Homo sapiens: one gene and its partners. The main gene of each other region encodes a partner of the protein of the gene in region 3 in a complex. Each region holds a gene or a part of one and is shown on either strand. Other genes may lie near its edges.

What was found. The genes of interacting proteins can lie anywhere in the genome.
Region 1: PRPF6 (region 3) and SNRPD3 share a complex: the UniProt entries of both Homo sapiens proteins name them as parts of the U4/U6-U5 tri-snRNP complex.
Region 2: PRPF6 (region 3) and SNRNP200 share a complex: the UniProt entries of both Homo sapiens proteins name them as parts of the U4/U6-U5 tri-snRNP complex.

The regions. Positions count from the first base shown.
Region 1 is NC_000022.11:24,558,975-24,565,998, reverse strand, and holds part of SNRPD3 (small nuclear ribonucleoprotein Sm D3), read right to left. Parts: intron 1-7,024. UniProt on the Homo sapiens protein: Plays a role in pre-mRNA splicing as a core component of the spliceosomal U1, U2, U4 and U5 small nuclear ribonucleoproteins (snRNPs), the building blocks of the spliceosome.
Region 2 is NC_000002.12:96,302,547-96,309,541, forward strand, and holds the start of SNRNP200 (U5 small nuclear ribonucleoprotein 200 kDa helicase), read right to left. Parts: upstream 3,001-6,995; 5' UTR 2,892-3,000; coding exon 2,847-2,891; intron 2,323-2,846; coding exon 2,159-2,322; intron 785-2,158; coding exon 613-784; intron 1-612. UniProt on the Homo sapiens protein: Catalyzes the ATP-dependent unwinding of U4/U6 RNA duplices, an essential step in the assembly of a catalytically active spliceosome. Plays a role in pre-mRNA splicing as a core component of precatalytic, catalytic and postcatalytic spliceosomal complexes.
Region 3 is NC_000020.11:63,998,122-64,005,145, reverse strand, and holds part of PRPF6 (pre-mRNA-processing factor 6), read right to left. Parts: intron 6,102-7,024; coding exon 6,007-6,101; intron 5,544-6,006; coding exon 5,387-5,543; intron 4,070-5,386; coding exon 3,907-4,069; intron 1-3,906. UniProt on the Homo sapiens protein: Involved in pre-mRNA splicing as component of the U4/U6-U5 tri-snRNP complex, one of the building blocks of the spliceosome.

The DNA of each region.
Region 1 (7,024 bases), on a different chromosome or scaffold from region 3:
GGATACAACTCAGGCTCACCTGAATCTGACTGACAATTAAAATGTGTTTTGGGGCTGGGCGCGGTGGCTCATGCCTGTAATCCCAGCACTTTGGGAGGCCGAGGTGGGTGGATCACCTGAGACCAGTCTGGCAAACACGGTGAAACCCTGGCTCTACTAAAAATACAAAAATTAGCCGGGTGTGGTGGCAGGTGCCTGTAGTCCCACCTACTCGGGAGGCTGAGGCAGGAGAATCACTTGAACCCGGGAGGTAGAGGTTGCAGTGAGCCAAAATCACGCCACTGTATTCCAGCCTGGGCAACAGAGCAAGACGCCGTCTCAAAAAACAAAAAACAAACCAAACAAACAAAAAACGTGTTTTGGGGACTGTGCCACACTCATGACTCTGTAGAAGACACAAAATAGGCCTAAAGACCTATAGGTGAGATCCAGCTCTGCCATTTGTCAGAAGTGTAACCCTAGGTATATCTCCAGGCTTCCCTGAGCCTCCGTTCCCTCAACTACAAAGCTGAGTTTTGAAAATACAAGACAACAAAGCCAACAGTTACTGAGCACTTATTAGACATCAAGTGCTGGCCCAGGTGATTTCCCCACGGCAGCTCATGTTACCCCACAAAATCCTACAAGGTAAAGAGATGAAGTGACATAGCCATTCAGAGGCAGATCTGTCCCCAGAAACCCATGCCCTTTCCCTCTATTCTCCTGCTTGAGGTCACACCACGCTTACATGGCCTGGCTGGAGTTTGAACCCAGTTCTTTCTAACTCACACTCTTAACCACTGCACATTTCCTGAAATTGTTAAAAAGCAAATCAGGCCAGGTACAGTGGTTCATGTCTGTAATCCCAGCACTTTGGGAGGCCAAGGTGGGAGGACTGCTTGAGGTCAGGAGTTTGAGACCAGCCTGGGAAATGTAACAAGATCCTATCTCTACAAAAATTTTTAACAATTAGCCAGGTGTGGTGGTGCATGCCTGTGGTCCCAGCTACTTGGGAGGCTGAGGTGGGAGGATGGCTGGAGCCCAGGAGTTCAAGGCTGCAGTGAGCTATGATTATGACACTGCATTCCAGCCTGGGCAACAGAGTAAGACCCTGTCAAAAAAAAAAAAAAAAAAATGAACAAGGCAAAGTATGTCTAAATGCTGTCTCTATTGCCTAATACATAATAGAGACTCAGTACATGCTAAATCTGATTGACAGCTAAAATGTGTTTTGGGAGCTGTGCCACTGCTAAGCCACACTCCCTCCAGCACAGGGGCACATCTCACTCCTTTCCTGACAGAAGCTGTTGCATAAGTCCGACAAGACTTAATCTAGGCATTTCCATAAATGAACTATGTCCTGGCTGAAGCAGGAGAGTCCAGTGTCCTCTGACTCCTATTTTAACCCTAACAACCAGGCTCACTACTGCTCTCGCTTTCCCTGTAGCACTGGCTAAGAACAGCTTGCTGTGGACAAAACCCCACAGTCTCACTGCACACATGCCTGCTAGAGCTTGCTAATAAGCCTGACCTGTGTTTGTATCACAAGCCCAAGGCAGCAACTTTTGAGTGAACCAGATCCTAATCAACTCCAGGCAGGAACACCCAGTTTAATCAACTTTCCTCAACAGCCACAATGAAACACATATGGTATAAGCCAGGTACCCAACTGAAATGACATCCTGAGGGGGAGAGAGAGAATCTTTGTAGCACAAAGTGGTGGGACTTTCTTAGATACCTGGGGCCAAGATGGAGAAAGCTAGCTCCAGGACTGTGAAGGTGTGTTGGGGTGTCTCAGGCCTGTCAATACACCAGAAATGCATTCTTTAGGACAATTTCACACATACACAAAGGCAGAGGTGCTTGGATGCCACTGCTATAATACGAATACCAACTAAGGCCATCTACCTATCTTTGTTCTTAGGAAATACAAAAGTATTATGGGGTAGAGGAGCATGATGAATGCAATCCACACACAAACAGTACAGGAAAAAAAAAGTATACGATAAGTTTAAAAAACTGGTTTTCCTTCAACCTAGAGGGCTAGGTGTCTAAAGAAATTCAATTACATTGAATTCAGAGATTTCAAAAACTTTCCTAGCAATAGTTATGGGCAATTTTCTGACCCAATCATGTGAGAGCTTCTTTTGGGTTCTCATTTTTATACAGTGACACAAGACCATATTCCATACAGAGACCAGTTTTCCAAAGATGGCTATTATATGCCAAAGCCAACAAAACAGATTTCAAACAGTCCCATCAGTGATTGGGTGGTCATGTTGAAGCCCCAAAAGCACAATGTCTGCTTGTGCAGAGCTCTACACCACATTCTCCCACCAAAACTTCTAAGAATTAAGTCATTTTGAATGTAGTGAAATGGGTTTGACCATTACTCTCTGTATTTGCTTGTATCATTTATAATTTGGGTCCATTTTTATAAAACTGGGGACATATTTTGGAGTATTGTTATTTTTCTCACTTATGCCAACAGCATTTTGACCAACATGCCATATCCTGCAGCTGATGCCCTATCCTGCAGCACTGGCCACCAGTGCTTGGCTTGCAGCTGTCGGAATGAGAAGGAGAACAAAAGCTCCCTGCCTTCCCAGCTTAACCTCAGATGCACACCCTCTGACCCGATAAGCACCATTTCAGGGACCTCATCCTGAGTTTCACATACACATATTTCCTCTTCTTCCTTTAAAAAAAAAAATATATATATATATACACACACACACACATATATATACATACATATATACATACATACACACATACACACACACACACACACACACACACACACACACACATATATGAGACAGGGTCTCACTGTGTTGCCCAGGGTGGTCCCAAACTCTTGGGATCAAGTGATCCCCCTGGCCCAGCCTCCCAAAGTGCTGGGATTACAGGCATGAGCCAATGTGCCTGGCCATATTTTGCATTTTCAAATGTCAAAAACAGTGCTAAGATAACAGGATACTTTAAAACTACTTGAGGGACCATAAAAGGGTATTTTGTATGGGGATGTTGTCGAGGATATCATCTAATAGTGTCTCCTGTATCTGAGTGCCAGGGAAATCCACACAATTGCTATTTTAACTTAAGAACACTATGCATTTTGGAACTGATGATCTTCCCTGCTTAATCTTACACTGGAATATACCTTTATTCAATGTACAGAGAGATTCAGGTTTACATTTCTGGATACTGACTGCTTGGCTTCATTTTACATTCTACCCCAGCTTACCTGCACCATGATCTATGCATCTACTTTTATCCTGCCATAGAATTTTTTTAATTTTAGAGATAGGGTCTTGCTCTGTCACCCAGGCTGGAGTGCAGTGGTGCGACCAGAGCTTAATGCAGCCTGAACTGCTGGGTGGGCTCAAGTGATCCTTTTTGCCTCAGCCTATGGAGTAGCTGGGACTACAGGCATAAGCCATCACATCCAGATAATATATTTTTTATTTTTGGAGATGGAGTCTTGCTCTGTCGCCCAGGCTGGAGTGCAGTGGCGCGATCTTGGCTCATTGCAAGCTCTGCCTCCTGGGTTCACGCCATTCTCCTGCCTCAGCCTCCCGAGTAGCTGGGACTACAGGCGCCCGCCACCACACCTGGCTAATTTTTTGTATTTTTTTTAGTAGAGACAGGGTTTCACCGTGTTAGCCAGGCTGGTCTCAATCTCCTGACCTCGTGATCTGCCCGCCTCAGCCTCCCAAAGTGCTGGGATTACAGGCGTGAGCCACAGTGCCCAGCCCCACATCCAGATAATTTTTAAACTTTTTTGCTTTTCAGAAGAGACAGGGTCTAACTATTTCTGAAAGAGGATAGAATAAAAAGTAAATACTAAAACCCCAAAACAGGGCAGGTGTGGCTTAGGCCTGTAATTCCAATACTTTGGGAGGCCAAGGTGGGAGGATCGCTTAAGTCCAGGAGTGCAAGACTAGCCTGGGCAACAGAGTGAGATCCTCTATTTATCTTTTCCGAATCGTTGTGGTGTGCTTTTGTGTGTGTGTGAGACTAGGTCTCACTCCGTCGCCCAGGCTGGAGTGCAGTGGCACTCCATAGCTCACTGCAGCCTTGACTTCCTGGGCTCAAGTAATCGTCCCAACTCAGCCTCCACCTGAATGGCTGGGACTACAGGCATGTGCCACCACATCCGTCTATTTTATTTTTTTTACAGACAAAGTCTTGTCATGTTGCCCAGGTTGGTCTTGAACCCCTGGGCTCAAGTGATCCTCCTGCCTCAGCCTCTCAAAGTGTTGGGATTATAGGAGTAGCCACCACATTTTGTCCCACCCCACTTTTATAACAGAAAATGTTATTGAACAAGCAAGGAAAAGTGCTAAGAGGATGTTCTCATTCCCAAAAGGCAGAATGACTGGATCTGGGAAGGACAGGCAAGCCTCACAGCCTGAGATGTGCTGAACAAACTAAACTGTGCTCAGAGTTCACCCACCACCAGCTTTAGCTACGCCACAGTCTGCTGGCTCTTATTCAATGTGCCTAGGTTTTGATAGACCCAGTGAGGCCTCTACATCCTGTTACAGGCTAAATTGTATCCCTCAAAAAAATTCATTGTTGAAGTCCTAATACCCAGCACCTCAGAATGTGATCATATTTAGAGACAAAAAATCTTTACAGGCCAGATGTGGTGGCTCATGCCTGTAATTCCAGGAGTTTGAGAGACTGAGGCAGCAGGATCACTTGTGGCCAGGAGTTTGAAACTGGCCTGAAAAACATATCAAGACTCCGTCTCTACAAAAAAATTTAAAAATTAGCCAGGTATGGTGGGGCACACTGGTAGTCCTGGATACTTAGAAGACTGAGGTGAAAAGATCTCTTGAGCCCAGAAGTCCAAGGCTGCCCATGAGCTATGATCAAACCACTGCACCCCAGCCTGGTCAACAGACCAAAGCTTAATCTCAAAAAAAAAAAAAAAAAAAAAAAAAGAAAAGAAAAAGGAAAAGAAAAAAAAGGCTGGGTGCAGTGGCTCATGCCTGTAATCCTAGCACTTTGGGAGGCCAAGGTGGGCAGATTGCCTCAGCTCAGGAGTTAGAGACCAGCCTGGGCAACATGATGAGCCTCCATCTCTATTAAAAATACAAAAAATATTAACATTAGTGGGGTACGGTGGCCCATGCCTATAACCCCAGCTACTCAGGAGGCTGAGGCAAGAGAGTTGCTTAAACCCGGGAAGACGGAGGTTTGCAGTGAGCTGAGATTGTGCCACTGTACTCCAGCCTGGACAACAGAGCAAGATTCTGTCTCAAAAAAAAAAAAAAAAAAAAAAAAAAAAAAGGCCAGGTGCAGTGGCTCACGCCTGTAATCCTAGCACTTGGGAGGCTGAGGCAAACTCAGGAGTTTGAGACCAGCCTGGGCAACATGGGGAAACCCTATCTCTACTAAAAATACGAAAAACTAGCTGGGCATAGTCCCAGCTACTCAGGAGGCTGAGGCATGAGAAGTGCTTGAACCCAGGAGGCAGAGGTTGCAGTGAGCTGAGATCATGCCACTGCACTCCAGCCTGGGCGACAGAGTGAGACTCTCAAAAAAAAAAAAAAAAAAAAAAAAAAAAAAAAAAAAAAGCAAGCAAGCTGGGCATGGTGGCTCACATCTGTAATCCCAGCACTTTGGGAGGTCGAGGCGAGCAGATCACAAGGTCAGGAGTTCGAGACCAGCCTGGCCAATATGGTGAAACCTGTCTCTACTAAAAATATAAAAATACAAAAATTAGCTGGGCATGGTGGCAGATGCCTGTAGTCCCAGCTACTCAGGAGGCTGAGGCAGGAGAATCGCTTGAACCTGGAAGGCAGAGGTTGCAGTGAGCCAAGATCGCGCCACTGCACTCCAGCCTGGGTGACAGAGCAAGACTGCAGCCTGGGTGACAGAGCAAGGCTCCATCTCAAAAAAAAAAAAAAAAAAATTCTTTATAAACATAATTATGTTAAGATGAAGTCATTAGAGTGGGCCCTAATCCTACATGCATGGTATCCTTATAAGAAGAATCTGGACAGAAACACTACAGAGGGAAGACCAAGTGAAGACACAGGAAGAGAGCCATATATAAGCAAGGAGAGAGGCCTGAAACAGATCCTTCCTTCACATTCCTCAGAAGAAACCAGCCTTGCCAACACCTTGATCTCAGACTTCCAGCCTTCAGAACTATGAGAAAATAAATTTGTGTTGTCTAAGCTGCCCAGTCTGTGAAACTTTGTTATGGTAGCACTAGCATACAAATACAAGCAGGGAGGCAGGTGGCTGTCCCCCACCATTGGTCAGGCATGGTTCCTTCTGAGGCCAAGGTGCTATTTTTATCCCTGATTTAGAGGAGGGACCAGAGGATGAAGGAGGTCCAAAGCTAAGCTCGCCCCAAGTCACCCTAGGGGGCAGGCTACAAGCTGATTCCAGGTCTGTCGGACACCAAGGTCTGTGCACTTTGTGTCATGTTGACTGCATCTCTGAATGGCTACCAAGGTTATCTGGTTAGACACCTTCACGTTACGGATGGGATGACAAAGGCCCTGGAAACCCAGCAAGTTGTCCAAATACATACAGCTAATTGAACAAACCCATTAAGCTTCACTAACCCAAGTCTTGCATTCTCCTCACCAAATTAAAGAACCTTAAAGTGGATGAGCATGCCTTAAGCCAGAGGACTGGATATATGAGAGATGATAAACTTATCTACCCTCAATAGATAAACTGATCTATTGACAGTAATGCAATAAACCTGAGTCACCAGAGGTCTACTTCTCTGCATTCAGGGAACTGACCAAGCTTGTCAACCTCGCAGGAAGATGACAGACGCTCAAAGCTACAGAAAAATCACAAATAAATGAACCCTGCAAACCAATGGATGGTCAGGATGCCTGACCGCGGTGTAAGGTGCTTTACCTCTCTGACCTTCTCATCTGGAAAAAAGCAATAGGTATCATATGTTGAACACTCACAGTATGTGAGGCACTGAGCAGCTATGGCACACATACAGCTCATCTGATCTTTGTAAAAGTCCTGGGGGTGTGGATATTACCCCTGTGGC
Region 2 (6,995 bases), on a different chromosome or scaffold from region 3:
AAGCTGGGGGTCCTCAAATTCAATTCCGTTCCAACACTAACTACCTGGAGATAGCGTCAGATCCCACAGACTGAGGACTCAGTCGCACAAGCCTGCCTCCCACTTCATGATGCCAGTCACAAGCACAGGTTGTTTGACCTGTGCTTCTCACTATACAGCTATAAATCGAGGTTTCCACAATCCCCTTTTGGGGTTCAACTAATTTTCTAGAGCAGATCAGGGAAACACTTATTTTTACTATAAGGCATATTACAAAAGATGCCTACCAAAAGACAACAGATGGAAGAGGTACACAGGGCAGGCATGTGGGAATGGGTGTGGCGCTACCAGGCCCTCTCAGGCGCACCACCCTCCAGAAACCTCCATGTGTGCAGCTATCCACAAACTCTCTAAACCTAGTCCTTTTGGGGTTTTTATGGAGGCTTCATTATGTAGGCATGATTGATTAAATGACCAGCCTCCATTCTGAACTACCTAAGTGCTGCCAGCCATCAGTCAACTCATCAGCATACAAAAAGATACTTAGCACTTCGAAGATTCCAAGGATCTTAGAAGCTGTATGCCAGAAAATGAAATAAAGACCTAATATATATTTCACAATATCACACTCACCTGGTCCCCAAGAGCAGCCTGGATGAAGCTGAGTAGCACCTCATAGGTCTCCCGAGTCTCTTTAGTTTTGGGCTTGTAGATGATGCCCACCATCTCATCAATGCCCTCCGACAGCAGAGTATAACCCTTCATCTTGTTGATGTCATGCCGGTCCTCATCACGCTTTCTTCGCCTAATGGACATGCAATGTGATATTGAATGGCAGAACCTTTCGTCCCCAAGGGAAGACTGGATCAAGCCCACCCTCCTCTCCTCAGCTTCATGGCAAGAAGTTAATATCTGAAAACAGGTATCTGAGCCTCAGCAAATGATTCCGTTTGGCCTTAATCACTTGCAGGAGTATTTCTTTATGGGACACAGTGACAAAAAGAAAAATTCCCTATCATCTTCTCACTAGATGCACTAAACATTACAATGAGATGTTTCTCATTTAAAAAATACAACCCTTTGGCCAGGTGCAGTGGTTCACGCCTGTAATCCCAACATTTTGGGAGGCCAAGGCAGGCGGATCACCTGAGGTCAGGAGTTCAAGACCAACCTGGCCAACATGGAGAAACCCTGTATCTACTAAATATACAAAAATTAGCCGGGCACAGTGGCGAGCGCCTGTAATCCCAGCTACTCAGGAGGCTGAGGCAGGAGAATCGCTTGAACCCGGGAGGTGGAGGTTGCCGTGAGAGAGATCACGCCACTGCACTCCAGCCTGGGTGACAGAGTGAGATTCCGTCTCAAAAAAAAAAAAAAAAAAAGTACAACCCTTCATACATTGTATGAGACTATTATATAATAGGATTTTGACTAGTTTTTCACCTCTCCAATGCATTTTCCCTTTCTAGCTAGAGAACCAAGCTCTAACAGAATCTACTGCCGTTGACTATCAACAAAGTATAACAAAACTGGAAAAGAAGATATAGCACAAAGTGGAGATAATGTATTAACTCATTTCAAACATAACTACTTTAATCAAACTAAGCCTAGGAATTTTGGAAACTTCATCATAGGAAAGGGAGCAAGACACCAAGATATTCAGGATCAAAAGATAATGATGAGGTAAAGGTAAGTTTTTGAAACATATCCCCAAGAAATCTTAAAAAAAAAAAATAAAGGAAAAAAATGCAAACTAAGAAAGAAACCTGTCTTTCATACTATGGATGCTTAAATTAGTTTGTTACAACAAAATAGGTAGAACGTGGACAAGAGTAAATGGAAAAAGTAGGGGTAGGAAGTTAGTAATGGGAAAAAAGGAAAACGAATTACTGGGACATAGGAATAGCAAGGGTCTTGAAAATACCCTGAAGAAAATTAAGATCTGTCTATGGACCAGAAACACACATGTAAGAAAAAGGTACCAACAAGTTATTTTCCACTTGAGATGCACTTGTTAAGGCCAAAAAATCTTTAAACTCTCCTGGTCTGTTTTTACCTTCACTGAATTGTTTTAATGCCACTGATCTTACACCAAGCATTCCAGCAAAAATGCTGCTCGAATGTTAAAGGGAAGAGACTTTGGATCTGAAGGAAAAAATAGTATCCCCTTGGCACTCACTTGGCTCTTCTTTCCTCCTGCATCTGCGGTTTGGTCCGTTGAGCCTTGTCTCCCATACGGGTGCCCTCCAGCTTCCCAACAAGGGACAGCACCTCTCCTGTGGGTTCATCCCGGCGGGTCCGGTCAATGAGAGAACGGTCAGCTTGGAGCACAAGATTCGAGTTCTGAAAAGATCAAAACATTATTGAAGCTTTGACATGAGCAGGGCCAATTCCTACTATCATAGTTACCCCAGCTGATGGAAAAAATCGTAGTAACTAGTTGCTTATCATCACTAATCGTAATAAAAATATATTTTCCTTAAGAATTGCATAGTATAACGCTGTGCAGAAGCGTACAGCTGAATAAGTCTTATGCGCTGTCGAATCAGCTAAACAATTCTTGTTCCTAACAGCGCCCATCATAACCCACACCTGTGAAAAGTAGTGAGTGGGTTGGGAGTGACGTGTGGAAGGGGGAGGGCTTAGCGTTGAAGGTACTCGAGAAACTCCTCCTAGAGAGATCTTAGCGCTCCCCAGACCCCAGTAGGTTATTCACGTCATCGTATAACCCCCACCTTCACCCCGATTCCATTTCCCCTTCGTTTTCGTGGCTCTCCTGTAGGCCTTCAGACTGAAACTCCCTTTTTCAGCCTCCCCCTCCCCATTGGACTCCTGAGCCTGGAATCCTTCCCCAAGACCAAACGCACCGCCTTGTACTCGTATTGCAGACTACGGGCGGTTACATCCGCCATGGCCGCGGCTGCTCGGAGGCTTCAGACCACCACGCCTCCCTACCGCAAGCTGCAAACGGCCGCAGATCTCTGCTCCCGCCGCGCCGGAACGACGCAGGAAAGACGCACTGGGGAAGGAAAAGAAACGGGTTCCCTTCCGCTTCCGGGTCGCGCCCCAGAAGTGCGGGGCGGGGCGTGTCTGGGGCGTGTCCCTGCCGTGTGCGCGCGGCTTTCCGCACCCTTCTGAGCGGGATATGTGGGCCTGGTGCGTCTGGGTCCCCGAATCCCTAGACCCCCGCACTCTGGTTCTGGCCGCCCGCTGGCACTAAGGACCCAGGGCCCGTGCTCTCCCCGACCTCAGTCTCCAGCCCCCGGCACCCCTCACATCATAACGAATGCACGGCTGCTTAGCCCCTGTCCTGTCCCAAGACCTTTCCTTCCGGTTCCTTCCTCTTTGGCAACAGTCCCATGAGGTAGGCAGGAAAAGAGGGGCCGAAAACCCCATTTCCGTTTGAGGTAACTAAAGTACCCAGCGAGCAAGGTGACTTGCGCGTGTGTCTGTGTTTGTGTGTTTTAATGATTGGCGCCTTGCTTTGGGTTTCTCTTCTGTGTTCAACAATTGAAAAAGAAAGCTACTATCCCCCACCAATCCCACCTAAACCTGTGCCCCCAAGACCCTCGTTTTCACCCAGCTGAACGAACAGGGCCGGGGCCCCCATTTGCTCCCACTTGTCGGTAACATTCTATGGTAGGGCCCTCCCTGCCGCCCAGGGAAACCGGTGAAGGCAGGGCCAAATCCTTGGTGACTATGACTTAATTTCTTCCCCAGCTACAAAGTCTTCTCTGTCCCACATTCCCCACCACTTCTCGCCAGTAGAATGGCGCCTTATGGCTGAAGGTGACCTCCCTCCTCACTTAGAGCATGTTTGCTTTTGAGAAGATGAATGAACAGGAGGATGGGTGTTAAGCCAAAGGAATTCATCCTCAATAGCAGTCCCCTAGACCAGATTTGTTCTGTAGTGGTATCGTGTTTGGCTCACTGTTGGCTCCTTCTTTAAAAATTGGGATAATTTCATGCAAACTCTGGCTCTCCCCCATCAGTTGAGATACTAGAAAATCAGCCACATGACACCCACACTGCTGCATGGCATGACCTGCTGCTGGTCAGCAGCTGCCAAGGTCAGAGAATAGGCAAGTCCTTCCCACTGCTCCTGTTTTCTCATGCCTGCCCATCTCCTTATTTTTACTTGCCCAGCCCCTGTAGGCATGGAGTTTGCTGCTTTGGTGGGTGTTTGTTTTTTTTTTAATAACTCGTCTTCCCAAGGGACAGTCGAGTCCTCATGGCTCTGCTCCTCAGTGGCTGTGTGACTTTGAAGTAGCTAGCTACCTGGCCTCTCGGTGAGCACCATTTTCCTCATCCTTAAAATTGAGGCAATTGGCTGGACACGCTGGCTCACGCCTGTAATCCCAGCACTCTGGGAGGCCAAGGCAGGCGGATCACTTGAGGTCAGGAGTTTGAGACCAGCCTGGCCCACATGGTGAAACCCTGTCACTACTAAAAATACAAAAATTAGCCAGGCGTGGTAGTGGGTGCCTGTAATCCCAGCTACTCAGGAGGCTGAGGCAGGAGAATCACTTGAACCTGGGAGGTGGAGGTTGCAGTGAGCCGAGATCAAACTCTGCACTCCAGCCTGGATGACAGAGTGAGACTCTTTGTCTTAAAAAAAAAAAAATTGAGGCAATAAAACCTTCCTCCCATTGTGATTAAATGGGATAGTGTGTTTAAAAGCACCTAGCAAAGTGCCTGACTCAAGGTGGGGTTCACTGAAAGTTATTGAAATCTGAATCCTTAAGGCTGACTTTTATTCCATGATCAGGCTGTGGCCCACCCACCTGACACGAAAGGGTCTCAAAGGTATTTCGGAGATTCCACTCTGTTTCTGTAGAAGTAGCATTCATGTTCACAGATGCAGCTGGGCTGTGGGCAAACCTGTGAAGCAAGAAAAAAAGGAAACTTTCCCCATCTTTTCTTTTCCTCTCTAATCAGGCTCTACCAAATGTAAATCCTGCATTTAGTCATTCAGATGGACTTATAAGTTTCCATAGTATGTTAGACCTGGTAGGAGCCTTAGAGATGGAGTAGTCTGGTTCCCTTATTTTCCACAAGAGGAGACTGCAGCCCTGGAACAATCGTCACACTAAAATGTAAATAAGGAAGAAAATAATTATGATTTTGAAAAGAAAACAACAGGCTGGGTGTGGTGGCTCATGCCTATAACCCCAACACTTTAGGAGGCTGAGGAAAGAAGATTGCTTGAGGCCAGGAGTTTGAGACCAGCTTGGGTAACATAGTGAGGCCCTGTTTCTACAAAAAATTAAAAAGTAGCCAGGCCTGGTAGTGTGTGCCTGTAGTCCCAACAACTTGGAAGGCTGAGGCAGGAGGATTGCTTGAGCCCAGGACTTCAAGGCTGCAGTGAGCTAGGATTGTGCCACTGCACTCCAGGCTGACCCACATAGCAAGACTCTTCCCTCAAAAAATAAAAACAATTTTTAAATTAAAGATAGAAAAGAAAAATGACAGCCGTGCTTCCTCACTCTGCGGAAGGGGCTCAGGGAAACTTCCTGGGCCAACTTGTTGAAAATGGGGGAAGGTGTCTAGTGAAGACAAGTCAAAGGAGTCACTGCCCCACATGAGAAAGGAAAGAGGAGCTGGGGTTAGACTGGGATGTAGAAAAGGGAAGAGAAAAGTCTTCAGGAAGCAAGAGAGGCCCAGGAAAATGACAGTCAGCCAGGACCTAAAGGAGCCACAAGCAAAGAGAAATTTATTTTACTTTTTTTTTTTTTTTTTTGAGATGGGGGATCTCACTGTGTTGCTCAGGCTGGAGTGCAGTGGCACGATCATGGCTTACTGCAGCCTCAATCTCTTCAGGCTCAGGTGATCCTTCTACTTCAGCCTCCCAAGTAGCTGGGACTACAGGCACACACCACACCCAGCTAATTTTTTGTATTGTTAGTAGAGATGGGGTTTTGGCATGTTGCCCAGGCTGCTCTCGAACTCCTGGGGTCAAGCGATCCACCCACCTCAGCCTCTCAAAGTGTTGGGATTACAGGCTGAGCCACCTTTCCTGGTCTGGGCAAAGAATTTGAACAGACGTTTCTCCAGAGAAAATATACACTGGCCAATAAGCACATGAAAAAATGCTCAACAGCCATGCGTGGTGGTTCACCCCTGTAACCCTAGCACTTAGGGAGGCCGCGGCGGGTGGATCACGAGGTCAGGAGTTTGAGACCAGCCTGGCCAACATGATGAAACCCTGTCCCTACTAAAAATACAAACATTAGCTGGGCGTGGTGGCGTGAGCCTGTAGTCCTAGCCACTCGGGAGGCTGAGGCAGGAGAATCACTTAAACCCAGGAGGCGGAGGTTGCAGTGAGCTGAGAGCATGCCATTGCACTCCAGCCTGGGCAAAAAGAGTGAACCTCCATCTCAAACTAAATAAATAAATAAAAATAAAAATTAGCTGGGCATGGTGGCACATGCCTGTAATCCCGGCCACTCGGGAGGCTGAAGCAGGAGAATTGCTTGAACCTGGGAGGCAGAGGTTGCGGTGAGCCAAGATCGTGCCATTACACTCCAGCCTGAGTGACAGTGCGAGACTCCTCAAAAAAAAAAGAAAGTTAAACATAGAGTTACCCTATGACCCAGCGATTCTACTCCTAGGAATCTACCCAACAGAACTGAAAACATGTCTACATAAACATTTGTACACAAATGTCCATAGCAGCACTACTCACAATAGCCAAAATATTGCAACAACCCAAATGTTCATCAGCTGATGATGGATAAGCAGAATGTGCTATTTCTATACAATACAATATATTATTCAACCACAAAAAGCAATGAAGTACTGCTGTGTGCCACAACATGAATGAATCTCAAAAACATATTAAGGCCAGGGACAGTGGCTCATGCCTGTAATCCCAACCCTTTGGGAGGCTGAGATGGGCAGATCACTTGAGGTCAGGAGTTCAAGACCAGCCTGGCCAACATGGTGAAATCCTGTCTCTATTTTTTATTTTTTTATTTTTGAGATGGAGTCTTGCTGTTGCCCAGGCTGGAGTGCAG
Region 3 (7,024 bases):
CATGATACAATGGCCTTCAAGGAGTGTGACTTTATGAGCAGAAGTGGAGGAAGCACACACCCCTGAAGTTGGCCTAGAACAGAAGAGTATTCTGAATGCTAGACACAGCCATGAAGACGTGACCGTGCAGAGGCCAACATGCTCTCCGGGGGTCACGTGACTGCAGGGAAGACCCTCAACCTGAACTGTGCCATTCCTGTGCCCCCAGAGGGACACGCTGGCGACGGCCACTGAAGGATGCCACGCTTCACAGGCCAGAGCATATGGCGTTAGTGTAAAATAACTCCACTTCCACACATCTGCATTAACTAGCGGAGTACACAGCATGTGAGTGCATTATTGTAGGGGAGCTGCCAGTCGGGCCTCCCCAGGGGACTCTGCACGTGGGACACCCCACCCTGGCCAGGAAGCTCACATGCTGCACCCTCCCCAATCCTGAAAGCCCTCTTCCCTTTTACAGAGGAAGACATGGAAGCTCAGAGGCCAAGCACCATGCCTAAGGTTACTCAGCCTCCTCAGGTCTCAAGATCAGCACCCAAAACGCCCATTCTCCCAACAAAGGACTAAGGTGTCAGCTCAGCCCAACAGCGACCCAGAGCTCACAGAGACCATGCACTGCCAGGCTCCCTGGCTGGCAGGTGTCCTAAGTCACCAGTGGAAGTAGCTGTCATCTTAATTTCAAAAACCAGACCCTTCAAGCAACGTGTAAGTGTTTGCTAATAACCAAATGAAGCAGTGCTGGGCTTCACCCCAGGAAAAGAATACAGTTTTTGGAAACACTCTTGGGAAAGGGCAGGCCAGGACCAGTATTAGGGCAGCGGCAAAGGCCATCCTGGAGATCCTGGGTTCATTCCACCTTAGCCCAGCTTCTCTGCCTGAGAGAGCACAGCCAGGAGGCCACTCCCTGAGAGAACAGCCGTGGAAACACAGTCCCTCAACACTCCCCGAAGGCCCCCGCCTCCAACAGCATACTCCCATCTCCAAATCCAAACCAACTGGAAATGAACCCAGACAATCTGGTGGTGAGCAGGGAGTGGCCACAAAGACATTCATGATCATTCATCAAACTGTGGCAGGAAGAATTCAATAGAGCTTTTCTAAGTAAACAATACTAATTACCCAGACTTTCATGGGCTCTTCATCAAAGAACTATTTCTTCCTAGCTGAAAAAAGATAAACTGATTTCTACAAACCCAGACAGGTGCTAACTTTCTGTTCCTGGCCACCTCATTATAAGACGCTGTCTCTGGCCGGGCGCGGTGGCTCACGCCTGTAATCCCAGCACTTTGAGAGGCCGAGGCGGGTGGATCATGAGGTCAGGAGATCAAGACCATCCTGGCTAACATGGTGAAACCCCATCTCTAATAAAAATACAAAAAAAAATTAGCCAGGCCTGGTGGCGGGCGCCTGTAGTCCCAGCTACTTGGGGGGCTGAGGCAGGAGAATGGCGTGAACCTGGGAGGCGGAGCTTGCAGAGAGCCGAGGTCGTGCCACTGCACTCCAGGCTGGGCGACAGAGCGAGACTCTGTCTCAATAAAAAAAAATAAAAGAGGCTGTCTCTGAGCATTCACTGAGCAGCTGGGCTGCGGTCAAGAAACCAGCCTCGACAGAGGAAAGCACGTTCACATGTGAGTGCACAGGGTCGGGGGAACATGCATCACAGGCAAGCAGCCTTCACCTGTCTTCTAACAGACGTAGACAGTAAGTGAATGAAACTATATTTGATAAGGGGCTTTCTACCAAAGAGCCCTCATCTGCACGGTCCTATCAGCACAGAAGCCTCAATGGGATATTTCGCTTAAAGACATTTGGAAAAACAAGAGCTGGAAAGCTCTCACTGAAAACTGCCCTTGATTCCATAAAATACACTTTATTTTTCCTAGGCTATAAATTCAGGAAGAATAGGCTGGATGCGACGGCTGATGCCTGTAATCCCAGCTCTCTGGGAGATCAAGGCAGGAGGATCACTTGAGGATGGGAGTTTGAGACAAGCTTGGACAACACAGCAAGATCCCATCTCTACCAAAAATTAAAAATAGCTGGGCATGGGGGTGGGACCTATACTCCCAGCTACTTGGGAGGCTAAGCTGGGAGGATCGCCTGAGCCTGGGAGGTGGTGGCTGCAGTGAGCCAAGATCGTGCCACTGCACTCCAGCCTGGGTGACAGAGCAAGACGCTGTCTCAAAAAAAAAAAAAAAATCTGGCCGGGCACAGTGGCTCACGCCTGTAATCCCAGCACTTTGGGAGGTCGAGGTGGGTGGATCACTTGAGGTGAGAAGTTCAAGACCAGCCTGGTCAACACAGTGAAACCCCGTCTCTACTAAAAATACAAAAATTAAGCAGGCGTGGTGGCAGGTGCCTGTAGTCCCAGCTCCTCAGAAGGCTGAGGCAAGAGGATTGCTTAAACCCAGGAGGCGGAGGTTGCAGTGAGCCAAGATGGTGCCATTGCACTCCAGCCTGGGGGACAAAGTGAGACTCCATCTCAAAAAAAAAAAAAAAAGAAAAGAAAAGGCCAGGCACAGGGGCTCACGCCTGTAATCCCTGCACTTTGGGAGGCCAAGGCAGGAGGATCACTTGTGGTCAGGAGTTTGAGACCAGCCCGGCCAACATGGGGAAACCCCATCTCTACTAAAAATACAAAAATTGGCCAGGCATGGAGGCGCACACCTGTAATCCCGGCTACTCGGGAGGCTGAGGCAGGAGAATCACTTGAACCCGGGAGGCAGAGGCTGCAGTGAGCCAAGATCGTGCCCCTGTACTCCAGCCTGGGCGACAAAGCGAGACTCTGTCTAAAAAAAAAAAAATGGATAGAAGCCACCTGCATAGGCCAGGTGCAGTGGCTCACGCCTGGAATCCCAGCACTTTGGGAGGCCGAGGCAGGCAGATCACAAGGCCAAGAGATCGAGACCATCCTGGATAACACAGTGAAACCCCATCTCTACTAAAAATACAAAAAGAAATTAGCCAGGCGTGGTGGCAGGCGCCTGTAGTCCCAGCTACTCAGGAGGCTGAGGCAGGAGAATGGTGTGAACCCGGGAGGCGGAGCTTGCAGTGAGCCGAGATCACGCCACTGCACTCCAGCCTGGGCGACAGGGCGAGACTCCATCTCAAAAAAAAAAAAAAAAAAAAAACCAGAAAAAAAAAACAAAAAATGAAAAAAAAGAAGCCACCTGCACAGATTAGCTTCAGAACAGCCCCCTGACTAGCACTCGTTCTGGACCCAGTTCAAGAGCAGCATCTACTACACACTTCCAGTGACAGGAGAAACAGTGCTCCTTTTATGAATCCACAGTAATAAAAATAAACAAACTACCCACAAAAGCTCTACCCTGGCAGGAATCCCTGGATGGAATCAGGTTGCCTGGTAGGCACACCGTCTGTCGTTATCTGACCTGAGCTGACGGCACACGCTGCATCGCGGGAGCAGAAGGCACAGCCTCGTCAGCAGCAGGAAAGAGTTCAATCAACGTGTGGCTCTGGTGCCTTCTCAGGAGAGAAAATGAGTAACACCCACAACGGGTCTGCACGTGCCAGGTGCCGGCTCAGCTCTTCACACAGACCATCTCCAGAGCCCCAGGACACAGGCTTTGAGCTACCGTTGTTCTCACCCTGCAGATGAGGGAAGCCTGGACCAGAGTGACCGCCCAAGCATCCAAGATCACACACTGGAAAAAGGCAGGAGTGAGGGCTCAACCCAAGCATCCCTTCCAGGATGGGAACTTGCCCACCACAGTATCCCTCCCCCATGGGGGTCCAAGGGCAGAGGCAACCCAGCCTGAGAAAAGGCCTGAAAAATGTCCCTGGTTCCTTATCCACTCTCACCAAAAGCCTGAGCCAGGAGCAGGAAAGCTGCTGAGAGGAGGGGCCCCAAGGAGGGAGAAAGCAGCACCTCCGAGGGAGGCTCACCTTTCCGAAGAACCCGCTTCTTTGCACGAATGTCCGTTTCCAGCTCTGCGGCTCTGATGTAAATCCTGACAGACTGTGGGAGATGACGGACAGCTTGGGCTACCACGGCCTTGGCTGTGTCCCCAGGCTGCAACCTGGCTGCTTCCAGCCAGACATCTTCACTCTGTGAGGCAAGAGATAAGACCAATAAGGCTCAGTGCAGGCTGGAAGCCGCAACAGGGCAGCAGGCACAGATCTCCAGAGCAGATCCTCGGGCCCCAGAATTTACGAAAGCCAATTAGCTCAGCCTCTAACACACCTGCACCAGGAGTCGCCCCCTTATAACCACACTTGGGAACATGGCTACCATATGTCTGACTGAAGAACACCTAATGGCCGGGCGCGGTGGCTCACGCCTGTAATCCCAGCCCTTTGGGAGGCCGAGGCAGGTGGATCATGAGGTCAGGAGTTTGAGACCAGCCTGGCCAACATGGCAAAACCCTGTCTCTACTAAAACTACAAAAATTAGCCGGGTGTGGTGGCAGGTGCCTATAATCCCAGGTACTCAGGAGGCTGAGGCAGGAGAATTGCTTGAACCCGGGAGGCAGAGGTTGCAGTGAGCTGAGATCACGCCACTGTACTTCAGCCTGGGCAACAGAGCGAGACTCAAAAAAAAAGAAAAAAAAAAAATGAAACACCACTTTGTGAAAAGAGCATGATTTCCTTCAGGACAACTCCATGGACAAAGCAGAGACTGCACATCTGCTCGGGTCGTTCTTTTTTGTTGTTTTTTTTTTTTTTTTTGAGACGGAATCTCGCTCTGTCGCCCAGGCTGGAGCAGCATGGTGCAATCTCAGCTCACTGCAACCTCCACCTACCGAATAGCTGGGATTATGGGCACCTGTCACGACGCCTGGCTAACTTTCATATTTTTAGTAGAGACGGGGTTTCGCCATGTTGGCCAGGCTGGTTTCTAACTCCTGACCTCAAGTGATCCACCCGCCTCAGCCTCCCAAAGTGCTGGGATTACAGGCGTGAGCCACCGTGACTGGCCACCATTAGGCGGGTGAAGAGCTGACCAACTGAGCTCTTTATAATGAAGCTTAGCCTGCCGTCAAACCAGTGGTGGATTCAGGCGTGGTGGATTCAGGCATGGTGGCGGGCGCCTATAGTGCCAGCTACTCTGGAGGCTGAGACAGGACAATGGTGTGAACCTGGCAGGTGGAGCTTGCGGTGAGCCGAGATCGTGCCACTGCACTCCAGCCTGGGTGACAGAGCGAGACTCCGTCTCCAAAAAAAAAAAAAGTGGTGGATTAGCCTTCACTCCACATGAAAACAAGCAGGAAAAAGCCCTTGGCTGCTTTTCACATCCTCCCCCAGCCTGCCCTATTGTCTGTAGTTTCAATACCAAAAGACAAAGAGATTTGCTCTAACAAGTTTACTCCCGTAGGGGCCACAATCACGCAGCCTCCCAGGAAACGCCTCCCAGGAAATACCTCACCTTGGGGCACATCTCCGTCCCCTTCATGATAAGGTTCCGAGCTACTTGTAGCTTCCCAGTGACTTCTTCCAGGCGGGCTGATGCAATCCAGGCTGGCGGGTGATGAGGGTTCGTCTCCCGAACAGACTTGAGGAGCAGTCGCGCCTTCTTGATATCACTATGAGAGGGAGAGTGCACACGGCATCAGGCCATGCTGTCAGGGGTGCACCCGAGACCTGGGATGAGGGCACCCACTTCACAGTCACAATGTAAGAACTATCAGTCCTGATGTCCTGAGTTACAAAAACCAACTCAAAACCTCAGTGCGCACTATTCCAAGCCTCTGTAGCCTCCCCGCAGACAAACGCTGAGAACCGAAGGTCCAGATGGGACATGTGGGACACAGCCAGCTGCTTTCCTGCCCAGCACAGGCAGGGACTTTGCAGTATCATATGTAACACATTGAGTGTACGCAATGAATGGATACAGATACATTTCAAATGGAAAAAACAAACTACTCCACTTTACATTTCTTAGAACCGCCATGTCCCATTTTGACAGCATACTGTCCATATAAAATCCAAAATACCCTAGGCAACTAGAGTCTCCATCCCAGCCCAGCGATTCTGCAAAGCACTCACTTGATGTCTCCTCCGTGTGTCGGGATCATGGAATTTAAATCCGTCAGGTAGCCTTTGGGGTCAACGACGGTCTGTCCACTCACGGAGTCAGACACCTGTGAGACAGGCCAAGCTAAGAGTCAGCTGGACATGACCAGGTGCAAAACAAAGTTCTCAGAGGGTCCCTGGTGCCCCTCCCACAACCCTGAGAGAGCAGTCAGAAGGAGAAGGAAAACAGCCTTCATTTCACTCAGACAACACCTTGTGATAATAACAAATTTCTTCTGTATGGAAAAAGATCTATTTTTTTTTTTTTTTTGAGATGGAGTCTCGCTCTGTCGCCCAGGCTGGAGTGCAGTTGTGCAATCTCGGCTCACTGCAAGCTCCACCTCCCAGGTTCACGCCATCCTCCTGCCTCAGCCTCCCGAGTGGCTGGGACTACAGGCGCCCGCCACCACACCTGGCTAATTTTTTTGTATTTTTAGTAGAGACGGGGTTTCACCGTGTTAGCCAGGATGGTCTCGATCTCCTGACCTCGTGATCCGCCCGCCTCGGCCTCCCAAAGTGCTGGGATTACAGGCGTGAGCCACCGCGTCTGTCCAAGATCTATATTTTTATTTATTTTTTTGAGACAGGGTCTCACTCTGTCACCCAAGCAGGAGTGCAGTGGCAATCATAGCTCAGTGCAGCCTCCAGCTCCTGGGCTCAAGGAATCCTCCTGCCTCAGCCTCCCAAGATTCTGTCTCTACAAAAAAAAGTGTAATTTTTGACCAGGCGTGGTGGCTCACGCCTGTAAACCCAGCACTTTGGGAGGCCAAGGTGGGTGGATCACAAGATCAGGAGTTCGAGACCAGCCTGGCCAGGATGGTGAAACCCCGTGTCTACTAAAAATACAAAAATTAGCCAGGCGTGGTGGCACATGCCTGTAGTCCCAGCTACTCAGGAGGCTGAGGCAGGAGAATCACATGAACCTGGGAAGCAGAGGCTGCAGTGAGCCGAGATCACGCCACTGCCCTCCAGCCTGGGTGACAGAGCAAGA